Linked DNA regions of Homo sapiens. The main gene of each other region encodes a partner of the protein of the gene in region 2 in a complex. Each region holds a gene or a part of one and is shown on either strand. Other genes may lie near its edges. The genes, in order: ANXA11 and TARDBP.

Evidence for each region.
Region 1: the proteins of TARDBP (region 2) and ANXA11 are in contact, whole or in part, in a cryo-EM structure (PDB 9FOR), measured with the Homo sapiens proteins. Residues at the interface, in NP_031401.1 of Homo sapiens: Ala328, Leu330, Ser332, Trp334, Gly335, Met337, Gly338, Met339, Ala341, Ser342, Gln343; in NP_001148.1 of Homo sapiens: Gly56, Met57, Ala59, Met61, Ser62, Gly63, Phe65, Asn69, Pro71, Asn72, Leu73.

Annotation. Positions count from the first base shown.
Region 1 is NC_000010.11:80,170,938-80,174,851, forward strand, and holds part of ANXA11 (annexin A11), read right to left. Parts: intron 1,933-3,914; 5' UTR 1,925-1,932; coding exon 1,870-1,924; exon of another isoform or gene 334-1,869; coding exon of another isoform or gene 1-333. UniProt on the Homo sapiens protein: Binds specifically to calcyclin in a calcium-dependent manner. Required for midbody formation and completion of the terminal phase of cytokinesis.
Region 2 is NC_000001.11:11,022,654-11,026,306, forward strand, and holds the end of TARDBP (TAR DNA-binding protein 43), read left to right. Parts: coding exon 1-1; 3' UTR 2-2,839; downstream 2,840-3,653. UniProt on the Homo sapiens protein: RNA-binding protein that is involved in various steps of RNA biogenesis and processing.

The DNA.
Region 1 (3,914 bases), on a different chromosome or scaffold from region 2:
TAGCCCCCTGCCAGTCCCCCACCACACGGGGAAAGGCAGAGATGAGAGCTCCCAGGTGGTCAGAAAGGGAGGCCCAGTAAAGCCTCGAGCCTCGAGCCTCGGGACACCACAGACCACATGAAAACACCAGGAGGAAAGTCTCCCCCTATCCCACTGGCAGAGGAGGGGAAACCTTCCCCTCTTCCCAGGGAGGAAGGTGGAGTTCCCCAAACACTCCCAAGACCCTCTGTGGGGTATTAAGGAGGCTGGGAGAGCCCAGGCAGGCTCTGCCCTCCCAAGTTCACCATCATGGAGCAGGAGGACAGACAAGGACAGACTGTTGTGGGACACCATGCTGAGCCCATGACAGAGGTGACCATAGGGAGCTCTGAGATTTCAGTAATGCGAAGGCACTGGCGGGAGGGGGTTTGGCTGTTTGCTATTACAAGTCTGTAAAAGGCAGGGAGAAGCAGGATAAGAGGCTGGAGGGACATGGGGCTGGGTCATGGTAAACACAGATACCAGTCCACAAGAGGACAGGAAGAAACAGAGGTGAAAAGCCCGCTCTGAAACCAGCAGGACCGGTATGTGCCCTGGGGCAAGGCTTTCACCCTCCTTAGGCTTGTTTCCTCAGCTTACAAATGGGCTAATGGTGAGTGTATGCCTAGACTGCTGTGACGAAGACTGAGTTAACACCTGCAGGGCTCAGCTGGGTGCCCGATGGGCATTCGACATCATCATGGGGCCTCTGGCCTGTTAGATGCTTTCCTCTACATGGCAGCTTCGGATCGGCTCTTCATCTCCAGGGCTCCAGACCCTCCAGGAAGAACCTTCCCTAAATTTCCTGCCTCCTCCTCTCTTGCTGCTCAGAGGCTGCTCAGCTGTGCTAGCAAAGGTGGCAGTGGCAGGATCTGGATGGCAGGATTTCTACTATAGAGAGAGAACCCAGGCCAGTGCCAGCCAACCTGGGGTGGGCTCATTCAGAGGGCAGTGGCCCAGCTCAGCCCCTAACATGCCCTGGGACAGCAGCTGAGCCACCTCTAGGTCTGAGTCTGTTCTTCACCTGCTGAATGGGAGGGAAGGTAAATGGCCTGCAGGTCTGGGGTGTTCAAACCACAGGACCTCAGCTCCAAAGAAATCAATGATGCCTAGGAGTCCCCTGGGGAGAGGGGCAGCGGCTCAGGCACCCTCAGGATGACCAGCCTTGGAATGACCCTTTTCTCCCCTTGGTCTCATGAGCCCTCATATTTCCTTTCCCACAGTGGGGACCAAATCTCATTTGAGGACCAAAAGGGGCCAGGGCCAGAGAAGACGACTTCTCCATGTGACTACCCACAGCTCCTGCAGAAAACAGGGAGTGACCTTTGACCCTTAGCATCTGCCTCCACTTCCTCTCTTGGCAAGGGGGATCTTGTTGCTGCAAACCCACACACCTTGAGCAGAGGGTAGGAGAGGTGGTAAGGGGCAACCATCACCTAGCAATGCTTTGGAGGACACCGTGTCGCTCTGCCTGCCTATCTCATCAGTATCCAGGACCACCTAATGAGGGAGAAATCCTTGAAGCAATTTTGCGGAGAAGAAAACTGAGTCTCAAAGTGACAGCATTTGCCCACTGTTACTAGAGAGTAAGGCAAGAGACCCAGCCCTGGGCCTGGTCCAGGGCTTTCTGGAGGCAGTTTCAAACCTAGGCCTCCGATGGCCTTAGTGTCATGCTCTTCTCCAGCCCCTGCCTCGGCTGGCTGTCCCACTACTCCTGTTGTCCTCTCCTCCCCTGCTGGGCCGTGCTGTGAGGGGAGGAGGGGAGTGAGGAAACTACTGTTCTCCCCTCTCCACTCCCAGCCACTGTACAGAGGCAGCATTCACTCTCCTCCCCACCCCAGACCCTCTTACCTGGTGCAGCTGGTGGGTAGCCACCTGGGGGCGGGGGATAGCCAGGGTAGCTCATGGTTAGATCTGGAAGAGAAGACGAAAGCACATTCAGGCTCTGCCTGAGAGCCCCTGCTGGCCCGTGGGACCCAGCTTCTTGAAAGGGCAGCCACCACCACAACTGGGACCCTGCAGAAGAAACTGCTGCATCTGCCCTGCTTGTCGCAGACCAGTTCACTGTCTCCTGCTGGTGCCTCCAGCTAGAAACAGTACCCACCAGCATGCTGCCTGACTTCTGGGCCAGGGCCACACCCCCGGCCCCACCCACAGTGACAGGATTCACTCCCCATGAGCCAGTTTCCTTGAAAGGCCCTCTCACTGAAGCTTTGCTCCTGCCTCTGCTGGCAAGGGTGCAGTGCGCCTCTGGGCCTGTTCTCCCACCTCAGAGGTAGAGACGCACTGCCTCATTCTCAGGACTCCAGGTCTGTCTATTTATCTTCCTGTGTCCTTATTGCCATCCCTCCAGCAACAGGGGAAGTCAGAGGCCCCTGTCTCTCTTCATTCTCCAACCTCTGGTTCATCAGGCAAGGGGACCTGGTAAGGTATGGAATCATCGTTCCTAGAAGCAAAAAGGGCCCTCAGGAGGTTCATCTGATGCAGGGTGAAGAACCAGGGCAAATGAGGCAGCATCACCCTGTTTCTGCAGTAGAGGCTGCTGATTAAGAGAAGTAAGTGATTTGCAGATCTGTCAGTAAGGGAGGAAGAGCAGCCTGGACAGGTGCCAGGTGAGACACCTGCTCTCACGAAGTCCCTCTGAACACGGATCCCTTGGCAATGTCCCCTGCCAGTTAAATTGTGAGGAGGGACACAGATCTGCTGTGACACCAGCCACATTGTGCAACCTGCCTGCTCTTGCTAATAGCAGCTGCTGCTGCAGTCTGCAGAGACACCCAATGGCAGGCGGACATGTGAGGAAACCTGCAGGGTCCCTCAACAATCACACCTGCTCGTCTCGAGTATGTGGCTTCTTTTTACACACTGGGTTTCACGCTGCAATGCATATCAGAATCACCTGATGGGATTGTTAAAACACATTGCTGGGCTCCACCACCAAGAGTTTCTGAGACAGTGGAACCAGTTTTTGCATTTGGAACAAGTTTCCAGATGATGTTACTGGTCCAGGGAACTCACTTTGAAGACCACTGTTCTAGCCACGCTATCCAACTATAAGAGTCTAGCTGCCCTTCATATCTATCTTGAAGAACTGGGCATATTGGGTTTTGTTTGTTTGAGACAGGGTCTCGCTCTGTCACCCAGACTGGAGTGCACTGGCACAATCATGGCTCACTGCAGCCTGGACCTCCTGGGCTCAGGTAATCCTCCCGCCTCAGCCTCCTAAAGACATGTGCCACCACACACAGCTAATTTTTTTTTTTGAGAGTCTTACTATGTTGCCGAGGCTGGTATATGCTGTTCTTTTTAAGTTTTTTTATTATTTATTTTTATTTTTTTGAGACAGGGTCTCACTCTGTAACCCAGGCTGGAGTGCAATGGTGTGATCTCGGCTCACTGCAACCTCTGCCTCCTGGGTTCAAGTGATTCTCCTGCCTCAGCCTCCCAAGTAGCTAGGATTACAGGCGCCCGCCATCATGTCTGGCTAATTTTTGTATTTTTAGCAGAGACAGGGTTTCACCATGTTGGCCAGGCTGGTCTCGAACTCCTGACCTCAGGTGATCTGCCTGCCTCGGCTTCCCAAAGTGTTAAGATTACAGGCATGAGCCACCATGCCTGGCCTACTTTTATTTTTTAAACAGCGTCTCACTCTATCACCCAGGCTGGAGTGCAGTGGTGCGAGCTCAGCTCACTGTAACCTCCGCCTCCTGGGATCAAGGGATTCTTGTGCCTCAGCCTCCAACAGGAGGGCGCAACCATCCCTGGCTAATTTTTGTATTTTTAGTAGAGATGGAGTTTCGCCATGTTGGCCAGGCTGGTCTGAACTCCTGGCCTCAAGTGATCTGCCCGCTGCGGCCTCCCACAGTGCTGGGATTACAGGCATGAGCCACTGTGCC
Region 2 (3,653 bases):
GACAGTGGGGTTGTGGTTGGTTGGTATAGAATGGTGGGAATTCAAATTTTTCTAAACTCATGGTAAGTATATTGTAAAATACATATGTACTAAGAATTTTCAAAATTGGTTTGTTCAGTGTGGAGTATATTCAGCAGTATTTTTGACATTTTTCTTTAGAAAAAGGAAGAGCTAAAGGAATTTTATAAGTTTTGTTACATGAAAGGTTGAAATATTGAGTGGTTGAAAGTGAACTGCTGTTTGCCTGATTGGTAAACCAACACACTACAATTGATATCAAAAGGTTTCTCCTGTAATATTTTATCCCTGGACTTGTCAAGTGAATTCTTTGCATGTTCAAAACGGAAACCATTGATTAGAACTACATTCTTTACCCCTTGTTTTAATTTGAACCCCACCATATGGATTTTTTTCCTTAAGAAAATCTCCTTTTAGGAGATCATGGTGTCACAGTGTTTGGTTCTTTTGTTTTGTTTTTTAACACTTGTCTCCCCTCATACACAAAAGTACAATATGAAGCCTTCATTTAATCTCTGCAGTTCATCTCATTTCAAATGTTTATGGAAGAAGCACTTCATTGAAAGTAGTGCTGTAAATATTCTGCCATAGGAATACTGTCTACATGCTTTCTCATTCAAGAATTCGTCATCACGCATCACAGGCCGCGTCTTTGACGGTGGGTGTCCCATTTTTATCCGCTACTCTTTATTTCATGGAGTCGTATCAACGCTATGAACGCAAGGCTGTGATATGGAACCAGAAGGCTGTCTGAACTTTTGAAACCTTGTGTGGGATTGATGGTGGTGCCGAGGCATGAAAGGCTAGTATGAGCGAGAAAAGGAGAGAGCGCGTGCAGAGACTTGGTGGTGCATAATGGATATTTTTTAACTTGGCGAGATGTGTCTCTCAATCCTGTGGCTTTGGTGAGAGAGTGTGCAGAGAGCAATGATAGCAAATAATGTACGAATGTTTTTTGCATTCAAAGGACATCCACATCTGTTGGAAGACTTTTAAGTGAGTTTTTGTTCTTAGATAACCCACATTAGATGAATGTGTTAAGTGAAATGATACTTGTACTCCCCCTACCCCTTTGTCAACTGCTGTGAATGCTGTATGGTGTGTGTTCTCTTCTGTTACTGATATGTAAGTGTGGCAATGTGAACTGAAGCTGATGGGCTGAGAACATGGACTGAGCTTGTGGTGTGCTTTGCAGGAGGACTTGAAGCAGAGTTCACCAGTGAGCTCAGGTGTCTCAAAGAAGGGTGGAAGTTCTAATGTCTGTTAGCTACCCATAAGAATGCTGTTTGCTGCAGTTCTGTGTCCTGTGCTTGGATGCTTTTTATAAGAGTTGTCATTGTTGGAAATTCTTAAATAAAACTGATTTAAATAATATGTGTCTTTGTTTTGCAGCCCTGAATGCAAAGAATTCATAGCAGTTAATTCCCCTTTTTTGACCCTTTTGAGATGGAACTTTCATAAAGTTTCTTGGCAGTAGTTTATTTTGCTTCAAATAAACTTATTTGAAAAGTTGTCTCAAGTCAAATGGATTCATCACCTGTCATGCATTGACACCTGATACCCAGACTTAATTGGTATTTGTTCTTGCATTGGCCAAAGTGAAAATTTTTTTTTTTCTTTTGAAATCTAGTTTTGAATAAGTCTGGGTGACCGCACCTAAAATGGTAAGCAGTACCCTCCGGCTTTTTCTTAGTGCCTCTGTGCATTTGGGTGATGTTCTATTTACATGGCCTGTGTAAATCTCCATTGGGAAGTCATGCCTTCTAAAAAGATTCTTATTTGGGGGAGTGGGCAAAATGTTGATTATTTTCTAATGCTTTGTAGCAAAGCATATCAATTGAAAAGGGAATATCAGCACCTTCCTAGTTTGGGATTTGAAAAGTGGAATTAATTGCAGTAGGGATAAAGTAGAAGAAACCACAAATTATCTTGTGCCTGAAATCCATTAAGAGGCCTGATAGCTTTAAGAATTAGGGTGGGTTGTCTGTCTGGAAGTGTTAAGTGGAATGGGCTTTGTCCTCCAGGAGGTGGGGGAATGTGGTAACATTGAATACAGTTGAATAAAATCGCTTACAAAACTCACACTCTCACAATGCATTGTTAAGTATGTAAAAGCAATAACATTGATTCTCTGTTGTACTTTTTTGTAACTAATTCTGTGAGAGTTGAGCTCATTTTCTAGTTGGAAGAATGTGATATTTGTTGTGTTGGTAGTTTACCTAATGCCCTTACCTAATTAGATTATGATAAATAGGTTTGTCATTTTGCAAGTTACATAAACATTTATCAATGAAGTCATCCTTTAGACTTGTAATCGCCACATTGTTTCATTATTCAGTTTCCTCTGTAAAGGGATCTTGAGTTGTTTTAATTTTTTTTTTCTGCATCTGAATCTGCATGATTTCCAAACCCTGTACCATCTGAATTTTGCATTTTAGCACTTGCACTATTACTCAGCAGCAGTAACATGGTAACACTTAAAATGGTACTCGGGGACCTCCAAAGACTAAACTGACAAGCCTTCAAGGAGCCCAGGGGTAAGTTAACTTGTCAACGGCATGGTTTAATCCCTTCTTTACACTTGTGTAAATTTCAGTTACTGGTCATAGAAGGCTTTCAATGTTGAGTGGCCTTTTATTAACATGTTTATGGTACTGCATAGATACGGGTATTTATTTTACCCTAAGAAGATTTTGAAGTTTAAAAGTACTTAAACTATTTGGCAAAGATTTGTTTTTAAAAATCTATTTGGTCAATCTAAATGCATTCATTCTAAAAAATTTTTTGAACCAGATAAATAAAATTTTTTTTTGACACCACAGTTTAGTGTCTGGAGTCTTACTGGAAAAACACGATTTCTTTTTATATGTGATATACAGATGCTGGAAAGTTACCTTTAAAAATTGAGTCTCTAAAGAAAAAAGAAAATAATAAAAATTGAGTCTCAAGAAGTTGTACTTCATATGCACAAGAGAAATGAGGCCAAGACTCACAGTAAGCTTTTACATGGAATGGTAACTTTTAGTTAGACTGAAAAACTTGAATGTTAGCTATTAAAACCTTTTAGGAAGGAATAGCCAGCTAAAACCAAATGAGATTTTTAAAGTTAAATCAGCACTTAAGTTGTGTCCTTAGTAGGAAAAAGTAGGAAGTTAACTACTCCGTAATCCAAGAGATAATGTGTAACAGTAAGAATGATTTTGTTGTTGTTGAGTATGAGCAAAGTAGCCCCTAAGTGTGTATTAGGGTTCTGTACTTAACTGTTGTGTGATGTGTGCTTTTGTTAGGCATCACTGTGCCCAAGTATTTCATGTTCATTGTAAAGAGGAAAAATACAGATTTCTCTATAATGTCACCACTTATTTCTAATGCCACTTTTCATCTTGTGGAAATGCCATGTTTTGATTCAGTCTTCTGAATTTGAACATTATTCAGGTTATTTCCAATTGCTGGGAATATCCTTACTGCTAAAATAAATTCTTAGCATTGGAATTGCTAGGTCAAAGATTATGCATGCTTTTTAAGGGCTTTTGAAATGTATTGCCAGTCTGTGGCCTGCCACCCTCCCTGAACATGCCTGGTCTTGCTTAAAATGTATTGCCAAATAGTCCTTGGGAAGTTTATGTTGTCTTTAA